Linked DNA regions of Homo sapiens: regions 1, 2 and 4 are each linked to region 3. Evidence: fine-mapped QTL for protein levels in blood plasma. A gene starts in region 3. Each other region holds a variant in brackets. All regions are shown on one strand. Distances are from middle to middle.

Evidence for each region. PIP is the chance, under the fine-mapping model, that this variant and not a neighbour inherited with it causes the effect. Protein levels are from antibody-based Olink assays in UK Biobank. Linkage for the fine-mapping came from a reference panel and not from the study's own genotypes, which makes the PIPs less certain.
Region 1: its variant is fine-mapped to the plasma level of the IGDCC4 protein (UK Biobank, PIP 0.97).
Region 2: its variant is fine-mapped to the plasma level of the IGDCC4 protein (UK Biobank, PIP above 0.99). The variant lies in the coding sequence of IGDCC4. If it changes the protein, the assay may bind it differently, which can mimic a change of level.
Region 4: its variant is fine-mapped to the plasma level of the IGDCC4 protein (UK Biobank, PIP above 0.99).

What each region holds. Positions count from the first base shown.
Region 1 is chr15:65,507,916-65,510,415 of GRCh38, reverse strand. The region is part of intron 2 of DPP8 (dipeptidyl peptidase 8); the gene reads left to right. Among named protein-coding and RNA genes, the nearest start is that of DPP8, 8.5 kb to the left of the region's middle. The variant A/G (reference allele first, on the strand shown) is at 1,034.
Region 2 is chr15:65,409,853-65,412,352 of GRCh38, reverse strand. IGDCC4 (immunoglobulin superfamily DCC subclass member 4) reads left to right here. Exons shown (of 20, transcript NM_020962.3): 2 at 983-1,333; 3 at 2,034-2,175. Among named protein-coding and RNA genes, the nearest start is that of IGDCC4, 12 kb to the left of the region's middle. RefSeq lists an enhancer at 1,097-1,754. The variant G/C (reference allele first, on the strand shown) is at 1,066.
Region 3 is chr15:65,421,525-65,424,240 of GRCh38, reverse strand. It overlaps IGDCC4 (immunoglobulin superfamily DCC subclass member 4), which reads left to right and starts at 1,294. Exons shown (of 20, transcript NM_020962.3): 1 at 1,294-1,448. The coding sequence starts at 1,379. RefSeq lists enhancers at 482-1,016, 1,992-2,261, 2,282-2,391.
Region 4 is chr15:65,434,281-65,436,780 of GRCh38, reverse strand. No RefSeq gene overlaps it. Among named protein-coding and RNA genes, the nearest start is that of IGDCC4, 13 kb to the right of the region's middle. The variant G/A (reference allele first, on the strand shown) is at 991.

The DNA of each region.
Region 1 (2,500 bases), 86 kb before region 3:
CTTAATGATTTGAAGCCTTTTATATAGTAAGTGAATTAATCCTTTGTGGGATTGTCCCAAGTTTGCTTATTTTTTAAATTAATTATTAATTATTATTATTTTTTGAGACGGGGTCTCAGTCTTCTAGGCTGGAGTACAGTGGCATGATCTTGGTTCACTGCATCCTTGACCTCCCAGGCTGAAGTGATCCTCCCGCCTCAATCCCCCAAGTGGCTGGGCCTACAGGCGTGTGCCACCATGCCCAGCTAATTTGTGTATTTTTTTTTGTAGAGACGGGTTTCGCCATGTTGTCCAGGCTGATCTGGAACTCCTGAGCTCCAGCAATCTGCCTGCCTCAGCTAGGATTACAGGCGTGAGCCACTGCACCTGGCCTTTTTTGTTTTTTGTTTTTTTTGAGATGGCGGTCTCACTCTGTTGCCCAGGCTGGAGTGCAGTGGTGTGATCCTGGCTAACTGCAACCTCCACCTCCCAGGCTTAAGCCATCCTCCCATCTCAGCCTCCCAAGTAGCTGGGACTATAGGCACATACCACTATGCCCAGCTAATTTTTGTATTTTTGGTAGAGATTGGGTTTCACCATGTTGCTCAGGCTCATCTCAAACTCCTGAGCTCAAGCTGTCTACCCACCTCAGCCTCCCAGAGTGCTGGAATTGCAGATGTGAGCCACTACACCTGGCCAGAAATCTTTTCTTTTATAAGAAATCATACATTTTTGAGAGCCCTTATTCCAAACGTGGTATGCTTAGAAGAAGCTCTATTATTTAGTAACAAGCATTTCGTTACATTAGCATTTTACTTCATCACATGCTTAATTTTGCCTCTTGTTCTTTGTCATGCTATCCTAAAGAGAAACAAGACTCATTGATACTGTTGCCTGAAGACATGGGCCCAAAATGACTGCTGTAGCTCTAAAGACCAATAAATACCATTAGGAAAGAATGAGAAAAGCCCATTTGTGCTTATGTCAGAACATAGAATGTGCTGGGGAAATTTTTACTGGTCATGGATAAAGCCAAGGCAGACATTATGGAACT[A/G]GGAGCATATAGGGAGGGGCAACTGAAATGATTGTGGGGGAATGGCTGTTACTGAGGAGAGAAGAAAACCAGTTTTGTCTTTTTGTTTTAATATTTGAAGACTGAAGGCTCTTAGAAGGATCACATTTTGTAAAATTGTGAATGGTATTGATAGGTGACCACAGTCTTAAGAATTCTATAGCAAAGCAACTTGGGAATCTACAAAGTAGATTTTACACAAAATTGAGTGCTGAAGTAAATGTCAGCTGATATATAACTTTTTACTCCAAAGGCAACATAAACTAATTAGAAAAATAAGAGGATAAAAAAAGATATGGTTATTTGGGGGCTTATCCTCAACATTTGCAAGGGTTAGCATGGGAGTTATCATAAATACCTTTCCCGAGGCTACCTTCTGCTGGCATTAATAATTCAGAAACATAGGTTGAGGATCTCTTTCACCCAGGAGATTTCTTGTTATTTTTGTGTGATTTATGTTTTCCTTCCTTCACTCCTCCAGCTTTTTGGAAGCAATACCCCTTTTTTTTTTTGAGATGGAGTTTTGCCCCTGTTGCCCAGGCTGGAGTGCAGTGGCGTGATCTCGGTTTATTGCAACCTCTGCCTCCCGGGTTCAAGTGATTCTCCTGCCTCAGCCTCCCGAGTAGCTGGGATTACAGGCATGTGCCACCACGCCTGGCTAATTTTGTATTTTTAGTAGAGGCAGGGTTTCTCCATGTTGGTCAGGCTGGTCTCGAGCTCCTGACCTCAGGTAATCCGCCCACCTCAGCCTCCCAAAGTGCTGGGATTACAGGTGTGAGCCACCTCGGCCGGCCAGTAATACCTTTTTAGAATAGAAAGGCTTTGTTTTACCTTATGTTTTCTTTGGTTCATATCTTCATAACCATAGTGTGTTTCTGTCAATCTTTTATATGTAACTCACTCTACACTGCTGTGACCTTCCCATCCAGTTATCACATGATTTTGCAGAAGAGATTTGGCTTCTACTTAATTTAGACCTTTTTCCTTTGCCCTTCCCCAATAAAGGACAAAGAGATTTTCAGCAGATCAGTTGCCAGATTCTGTATTGTTTTAATATTAGTATAGTTTTATTGGAAACCCTAAAGGTCTTATTAATGATTATAGTTACAGAACTTTTTTTTTTTTGAGACGGAGTCTTGCTCTGTTGCCCAGGCCAGAGTGCAGTGGTGTGATCTCGGCTCACTGCAATCTCCGTCTCCTGGGTTCAAGCAATTCTCCTGCCTCAGCCACCCAAATAGCTGGGATTACAGGCACGTGCCACCACGCCCAGCTAATTTTTTTGTATTTTTAGTACAGACAAGGTTTCATCATGTTGGCCAGGCTGGTATCAAACTCCTGATCTCAAATGATCTGCCTGCCTCGGGCTCCCAAAGTGCTGGGACTACAAGCATGAGCCACCACGCCCAGCCTACAGAACTTTTATAATGAATAAAAACTAGAATTCAGTTA
Region 2 (2,500 bases), 12 kb after region 3:
TTTAGTAGAGACGGGGTTTCACCATGTTGGTCAGGCTGGTCTTGAACTCCTGACATCATGATCCACCTGCCTCGGCCTCCCAAAGTGCTGGGATTACAGGTGTGAGCCACTGCACCCAGCCACTATATTCTTTTCTCACAGAGTCTCGTTCTGCCAGCCAGGCTGGAGTGCAGTGTCGTGATCGTGGCTCACTGTAGCCTGGAACTTCTAGGCTCAGGCGATCCTCCTTGCTTCAGCCTCCTGAGTAGCTGGGACCACAGGCCTGTGCCACCATGTACAGCTAACTTTTTAAATTATCTGTAGAGACGGAGTCTCTCTGTGTTACCCAGGCTGGTATGCTTTTTTAATTGAGAGACAATTCACGTACTACAAAATTCACCCTTTACAGTGTTCAACTCAGTGGTTTTTAGTATATTCATATTCACAACGTTGTGCAACCACAGCCACTATCTAATTCTAGAACATTTTCATCACCCCCAAAAGAAACCCTGTACTCATTAGCAGTCACTCTCTGTCCTTCCTCCTCCCAGTCACTGACAATCATTAATCCACTTTCTGTCTTTATGGATTTGCCTCCTCTGGGCATTTCGTAGAAATGAGATCATGCAAAATGTGGCATCTTATGATTGGCTTCCTTCACTTAGCGTCAAGTTTTCTTGCTACCTTGTAGCATGCATCAGTCCTTCATTCTTTTTGATGGCTGAGTAATCTATCCATTCATCAGGTGATGGGCTTTTGGGTTGTTTCCACTCATTGGCTATTATGAATAATGCTGCTATGAGGAAATTGAGCAGCAGGGGAAGACAGGCACAGAGGAATGCAGCAGTTTGTCCAAGGTCACAGTTAGTAAGGGGAGAGCCAGGATCCAGATGCAGGTGTTTCTCCTTGATTTGCCCCAGCCCCTGCATGGGTGACTCAGGAGCAGAGGCTGTGGGAGGTGGGGGGACATACACTGATGGCCCCGTGCTCCTCCTCTATGCAGGGGAGCTGCTGTTGCCCCAGGAGACGACTGTGGAGCTGAGCTGTGGAGTGGGGCCACTGCAAGTGATCCTGGGCCCAGAGCAG[G/C]CTGCAGTGCTAAACTGTAGCCTGGGGGCTGCTGCCGCTGGACCCCCCACCAGGGTGACCTGGAGCAAGGATGGGGACACCCTGCTGGAGCACGACCACTTACACCTGCTGCCCAATGGTTCCCTGTGGCTGTCCCAGCCACTAGCACCCAATGGCAGTGACGAGTCAGTCCCTGAGGCTGTGGGGGTCATTGAAGGCAACTATTCGTGCCTAGCCCACGGCCCCCTCGGAGTGCTGGCCAGCCAGACTGCTGTCGTCAAGCTTGCCAGTAAGTGCTTGCATCGGGCGGGGGTCTGAGGCTGAAACCCAGACTTGGGGTGTGCGAAGTGGGATCTGCAGTTAGTTACTTGCACAAATGCCTCTCTCTTGATCCCACTCCCCCTTTCCCTGCCTCCCATCCTGCTCAATAGGTCTCTTCCTGGTATTGTCTATCCTCATTCTTGGGTATTCCATAATCTTCCCGCTTCTTCTCCACTCCCCTGTTCCTTCTGCTTTTCTTTCCCTTTGAGTCCTAGAGTCTGGGCTTGTGCTGTCCTCCAGGGAGCCTGCCAGAGTGCCCCCTTTGTGTCAGAGGCACAAAGCTGCCTCCTAAGGGAGCTCCTGCCTGCACGGCAGGTGGAACATGTGGAGCCAAACCCCACGCTCCAGCCTTACCCCTTAGGGGGCTCTCAGGAGGCACAGATCACCATGAAGTAACTTTCAGGCCAGAAGAAGTGTGCATCTTACTGTATAGTTTGACCATCATGATGATGTTGGGCAGGGGGGCTTTGGAATTCATTCTGCTGGCAGTATCTGACCGCTAATCACCACTTCTTGTTGTGTCTCCCTCGGTCTGAATTGGCTCTGCTGTGTGTTTCTGTGACTGTGTGTTTCTGTGTCTCCATGCGGATGTGTTTCACTGTTTGTGCTTGCTGTGGCTTCTCTCTCCTATTCTTTTCCCGTCCCTGCCTGTGTCTCACTGTCCCCAGCACTCGCAGACTTCTCTCTGCACCCGGAGTCTCAGACGGTGGAGGAGAACGGGACAGCTCGCTTTGAGTGCCACATTGAAGGGCTGCCAGCTCCCATCATTACTTGGGAGAAGGACCAGGTGACATTGCCTGAGGAGCCTCGGTGAGTGCCCTGTAGGGGAGCGGGTCCTGGTAGGCAGGGCAGAGAGGGCTCTGGGGTGTGCTCAGAACTGAGATTCTTAGAGTCGAGGTAGCTGCATTTACCTAAGCTGACTTGAGTGTTAACCACCGCCTGACTCCTGGCTCATGTCTAGTCCCAAAGAGAAGTTGGACAAGAAGTTTTTGCTCCCTGGGAGGAAGCCACCCATTGAGCTGTGGAGCCTGGGTAGGTGTAGTAGTAGAGTCCTTCCCAGCACATCTAGTCCAACCACTTGCTTTATTGTGGAGACTGAAGGCCAGAGAGGAGCTGTGGCTTATCCCAAGCCGTA
Region 3 (2,716 bases):
GAAAGTATACATTTGGGCATCATTAGCATAAAGATGCTCTTTAAAGCCTTGAGGACCAGATGAGATCACTAAGGGAAGCAAGTGTTTCAAGGAAGAGGGAGTGATTCACTAAGTCAAATGCTGCTGATAGGGCAAGTGAAGATGGGGCGTGGCAATGAATGAATAAACGCCAGGCCTGTTAGATATGCAAAGCGCCAGTGATTATTGAGGGTTAACTGACAACAGACAGGTGTAGAGACAAGATGGCTCTAAGTCACAGGAACACTTAGAGACACAGGGAAGGGAAGAACTATGGCATCTTGGAGTTGGAAAGGACCTTAACTAGGTCATTGAATCTGTACTCTTTTCCCCACCCTAGCCTGACAATTGAACCCTTGGCTGTAGAACAAGAAATATTTGCGGGATACTGAGGCAAACAGTCTGGCTAGGTAGGTTAGAGAAAGTACCGTTGAAGAATGAGAAAAAGGGTACTTCAGTAAATGCTGGACAGCAGAGGCAGGGTGAGGGAGTGGAGATGACCTTCCGAAGTCAGAAAACCAAGGTTCAGGTCCTGTATCTGCTGCTCCCTAGCCTCCTGTCCTTGGGCAAGTCACTTCACCTTCTCCAGCCTCAGTTTCCCCATGCGGCGACATCTGAATATGGTAGTGCTTGAAGGTAGTGTAAAAGTGTCCTGCCTGTGTTAGTTACTGCCAGAGCAAGGGAAGGAGGCCAAGAGAAGCCCTTGGTTTGGGATGGCAGATAGGACTATCAAGATCTCCGCAGGTGGGCTGGCGCAACGTGTGGAGAAGCGAACCAGCATTCAGGCCAGGACCTGGGCTGGAATGGACTGGGCTCGGGTGGCAAGGGGGCCATCTGGACAAAGACCGTGGCCCTGAATCTGCCTCCCCTGAGCCTGGAACGGAGGTGGAGACCCCGAGGCAGCAACAGGGAGAAGAAATAGAGACGCTGAGGCAGAGAGACCAGAAGACTCAGAGACGGGGAGACTAAGAGACAGACCCAGCAACAGGCGGCCTCACGGGGGCCCGCGGCGACCCGGAGAGGGCGAGGCACCGGGACACAGACCCGGGCCGAGAGGAGCCCCCGCGAGGCGCAGGGCCGTGGCGCGCGGGCGCAGGGTCCCCGGCGGGGCCAGGGTGGCCACACTCGCCGGGCGCCCCCTCCCGGGCCGCTCGCCCAAGATGGCGATGGAGGGGCGGGTGAGGCGGCAGCGGCCCTGGCCCCCGCGCCGGCCCCAGCTCGGGCCCGGGCCCCCGAGGCCGCGCCCCCGCCCGCGGCGCCGCGCCTCCCCGGGCCACTGACGCCCGGCGCGCTCTCCCCCCGCGGCGGCGGCCGAAGCACGGGGAGGCGGCGGCGGCGGCGGCGGCCCGAGCCCAGCCCCATGGCGCGGGGGGACGCCGGCCGCGGCCGCGGGCTCCTCGCGTTGACCTTCTGCCTGTTGGCCGCGCGCGGTAAGGGCGGGCGCCCGGAGAGGCAGGAGCGACTGCGGAGTGCTGGTGCGCCCGCGCCCTGGTCTGCATCGGGCTGCGGGGCTGGCTCAAGCCGGAGTCCCGAGCAAGTGCGGGGGCTGCGCGTCCAGGTGCCCGCGATGCCTGCGCGGGGGTCTGCGAGCTGCGGCCGGGGGGCGTTTGTGGGGCGTGCTTGTCCGCAGTGGGTGTGTGCCTTTGGTTCGCAGAGTCTGGAGTCGTGTGTGTGTGTGTGTGTGTGTGTGTGTGTGTGTGTGTTGGGAGTGCTCCTGTCGTGTCCGCAGTGCGTGCCATGGTCGCGGCGTGGCATCGGCGGGGCGGGTAGCTGCGGTGTCGGTGGCTTTCGCGGGGCGGGCTCTGCCTTGCCTGCGCGTGTCTTGGGTTGAGAGTGTGTGTAAAAGAGGAGGGAACTGGGGTTGTGTCTGCACCTCCATTTGGGTCGGGTGCGTGTGCAATTGTGTTTATGGGGCTGAGCTAATATTTGGCCTTGGCATTTGGGAAGTGTCCTTGCCCATAGTGGGGGACAGAGCGATGGATCCCGTTTGACTGGGGGTGGTGGTGATAAAACAACACTCAACTTTGCCCAGTGGGTGTGGTCCCTGGGGCCGGTTAGAGAGGGGTAGAGGGAGGTGTTGCTCCCCAAAACCTGTGGCCAGCAGTGGACTGGGGGAGGGGGCAGGAAACCATTTGCTTTCGTGGACATGTCCAGCGCTTGTTCTCACGATGGGACGCGTGTCACCCCGGCCCCACCCCCCAGGGACCGACCAGGGAAGCGTGGACGAGGTCAGCAGGGCCTCATCCAGTCCGCAGCCCAGTGCGGAGTGGGTACGGGGTAAGTCAGAGTTGTCCAAGCTGGAGAAAGGGCTGGGGAGGGGATAGCGAAGTCCCCAAGGGTGTGTGTCTAGGGCTGCGGCTTCCACCCACAGCTCTGTCGCTTCCTGTCCGGTGTGCGTTTGGGGGCGGCTCATGGGGAGTGTAGGTGGCAGGGCTGGGAGGGGGATGGGCTGGCCGCTTTGTTCGCCTAGTTCTTGCCTTCCCCGCGGAGGGGGGAGCTGAGGATGTGTCCGGGGAGAGTCGGGGAGGGACTTGGAGGTGGGGGTGGGGAGGGGGATTTCTCTCCAGCTGCTGCGGCTTTCCAGAGAGACTCAGCCAGGCCACGTGGGAGGGAGGCGGGGGGAAGGAGCCTCCGCCTGGCCAGCCCCAGGCCCATCTCCAGGAAAACCAAACAGCGGGTGGGAAAGTGCCGGGAACTC
Region 4 (2,500 bases), 13 kb before region 3:
CAAGGCGGGTGGATCATGAGGTCAGGAGATGGAGACCATCCTGGCTAACATGGTGAAACCCCATCTCTACTAAAAATACAAAAAATTAGCCGGGCGTGGTGGCAGGTGCCTGTAGTCCCAGCTACTAAGGAGGCTGAGGCAGGAGAATGGCGTGAACCCGGGAGGCGGAGCTTGCAGTGAGCTGAGATGGCGCCACTGCACTCCAGCCTGGGCGACTAAGCAAGACTCTGTCTCAAAAAAAAATGAAAGCCAGGGATGGTGGTACATGCCTATTGTCCTAGCTTCTTGGGAGGCTGAGGCAGGAGGATCACTTGAGCCCAGGAGGTTGAGGCTGCAGTGAGCTGTGATTGCACCACTGCACTCCAGCCTAAGTGACAGAGCCAGGCCCTGTCTCAAAAAACAAAAAACCAAACCAAATACCCACCCACACACACACACACACACACACACACACACACACACACACACACACACAGAAGAATGATCCTAGAATCAAGGAAATATGATACTTGCCTGAAGTCTGAGATCCTTCAGGGACTGAGCTGATGCTGAGCTCAAGAAGTGTGTGCTGGGTGGATCTTGGATGTGAATCTCCCTGAACTTGCCCAGAGAAAGGAGAGAGAGCATGAAAAAGAGAAGGGAATTTGGGATCTGATAGAGTTGGGTTCAGACCCAGCAGTTGTGATTTTGAGCAACACCTCTGCTTCTCTACCCTTGGTTTCCTGGACCCTAAAGTGGAGTTTTAATACATCACAGAGTTGCTGTGAGGCCAAATTGTCAAGTACAGACTAGCATGGGATGGGGGTTTGGAAGTGATTCATGACAGTGAAGTTGGCCCTCCTGCTGTTGATCCAACCCCACCCATCCAAGCCTGCCAGAGGGCGCACTGTGCTCTCCAGGACATGAGCTGTGAGGCCCAAACCCTGGGGAGAAGATAGATGCTGGAAGGGGAAAGGAATATGACTCAGCCCCAGGGATCTTGGGAGGACA[G/A]CAGCTTCTGGGCCATGAACAAGGGTGGGTACAAAAGCCTCCTGTGGGGGTGACTGAACTCTGCCCTGGCCTCAGATACTTCCCACTTACCTGACCCAAAGGCTGATGATCTTCTGGTATTGCACATTCCTTTATTTCTTTCTTTTGAGACGGAGCCTCACTCACTCTGTCGCCCAGCCTGGAGTGCAGTGGCGTGATCTTGGCTCACTGCAACCTCTGCCTCCCGGGTTCAAGCGATTCTCCTGCCTCAACCTCTTGAGTAGCTGGGATTACAGGTGTGCACCACCACACCCAGCTAATTTTTTTATTTTTAGTAGAGACAGGGTTTCACCATGTTGGCCATGCTAGTCTTGAACTCCTGACCTCAAGTGATCTGCCCACCTCAGCCTCCCAAAGCACTGGAATTACAGACGTGAGCCACTGTGCCCGACCTGCATATTGCTTTAAATGAAGGCATCATTAACTGTAAGGCCCTTGTTAGGGATAAAATGTTTTACCTGTGAGCCAGGTGACACATTTTCCTCTGAATACCAACTGCTAACGTTTGTATGGTTAGTGTCCCACCACTTAGAGTACTTCCTTATGACATCATTATATTCAATTTGATCCTCACAATAAAACTGGGATGTCAGGCATATTATTATTCCCCTACTTTTTTTTTTTTTTTTTTGGTCAGAGAAAGAAATGAAAACTCAGAGAGGTATATGCCTTGCCCAAGGTCACAGTGCAGAAGTGGAATGCTGATCCTGGTTTCACCAGCTAATCGGCGAGCAACATGAATTGAGCAGCTACATGGAGCTAATGATTATTCTACTTCACGGAGTTGCTGTGGGCTTTGATATGAGAAAACACATGCAAAGCTCCTAGTGCCTGGCATGTAGCACTCAGACACGAGCTATTAGTTCTCTGGGCAGTGGAAAAGAGGGTGGTCAGGGAAGGCTGCACAAAGGAGGTGGCATTTGGATTGGGCACTAAAGAACAAGCTTCCCCAGGTGGGAGGAAGTCATTCCAGGCAGGGAGAATAGGGATGAAGGGATAAGGGGTGTGGGGGCTGGCATACTGGGAGCGCTGATTGTGGGGAGAATGGTAGAAAAAGCTGGGGGTGCCAGGGAAGAAGTGCGAAGGGCCATGCATGACGGAAGCTAAGGAGATTGTGCATCTGCCCCCAGCTCTGCTGCTCGCTTCACCTCAGCCGGCCTAGCTTATCTGGAGACAAATGACGGGACAGGTCATGGGATAGTCGTGCTTTGATGGGGAAAGTGTCGGAGCAAAGGACTGTTGGGTAGAACAGGCTCAGGGTGAGGATTCCAGCCCCTAGAAGCTGTGGGAAGACACAGTCTCCAGCCCGAGGTGGTGAGCTTCCAAAGAGGGATGGACAATATGACAGTGTCGCAGGCCTTTCCGTTCTGCGGAAGACAGTGCTCCCATCCTGCCACGATCAGTGTGTCCAGCTGCAGGCAGAGCGTCCAGAGAGACCCCAGGAGAGAGCAGGTCTCAGCCCATTGTGCCA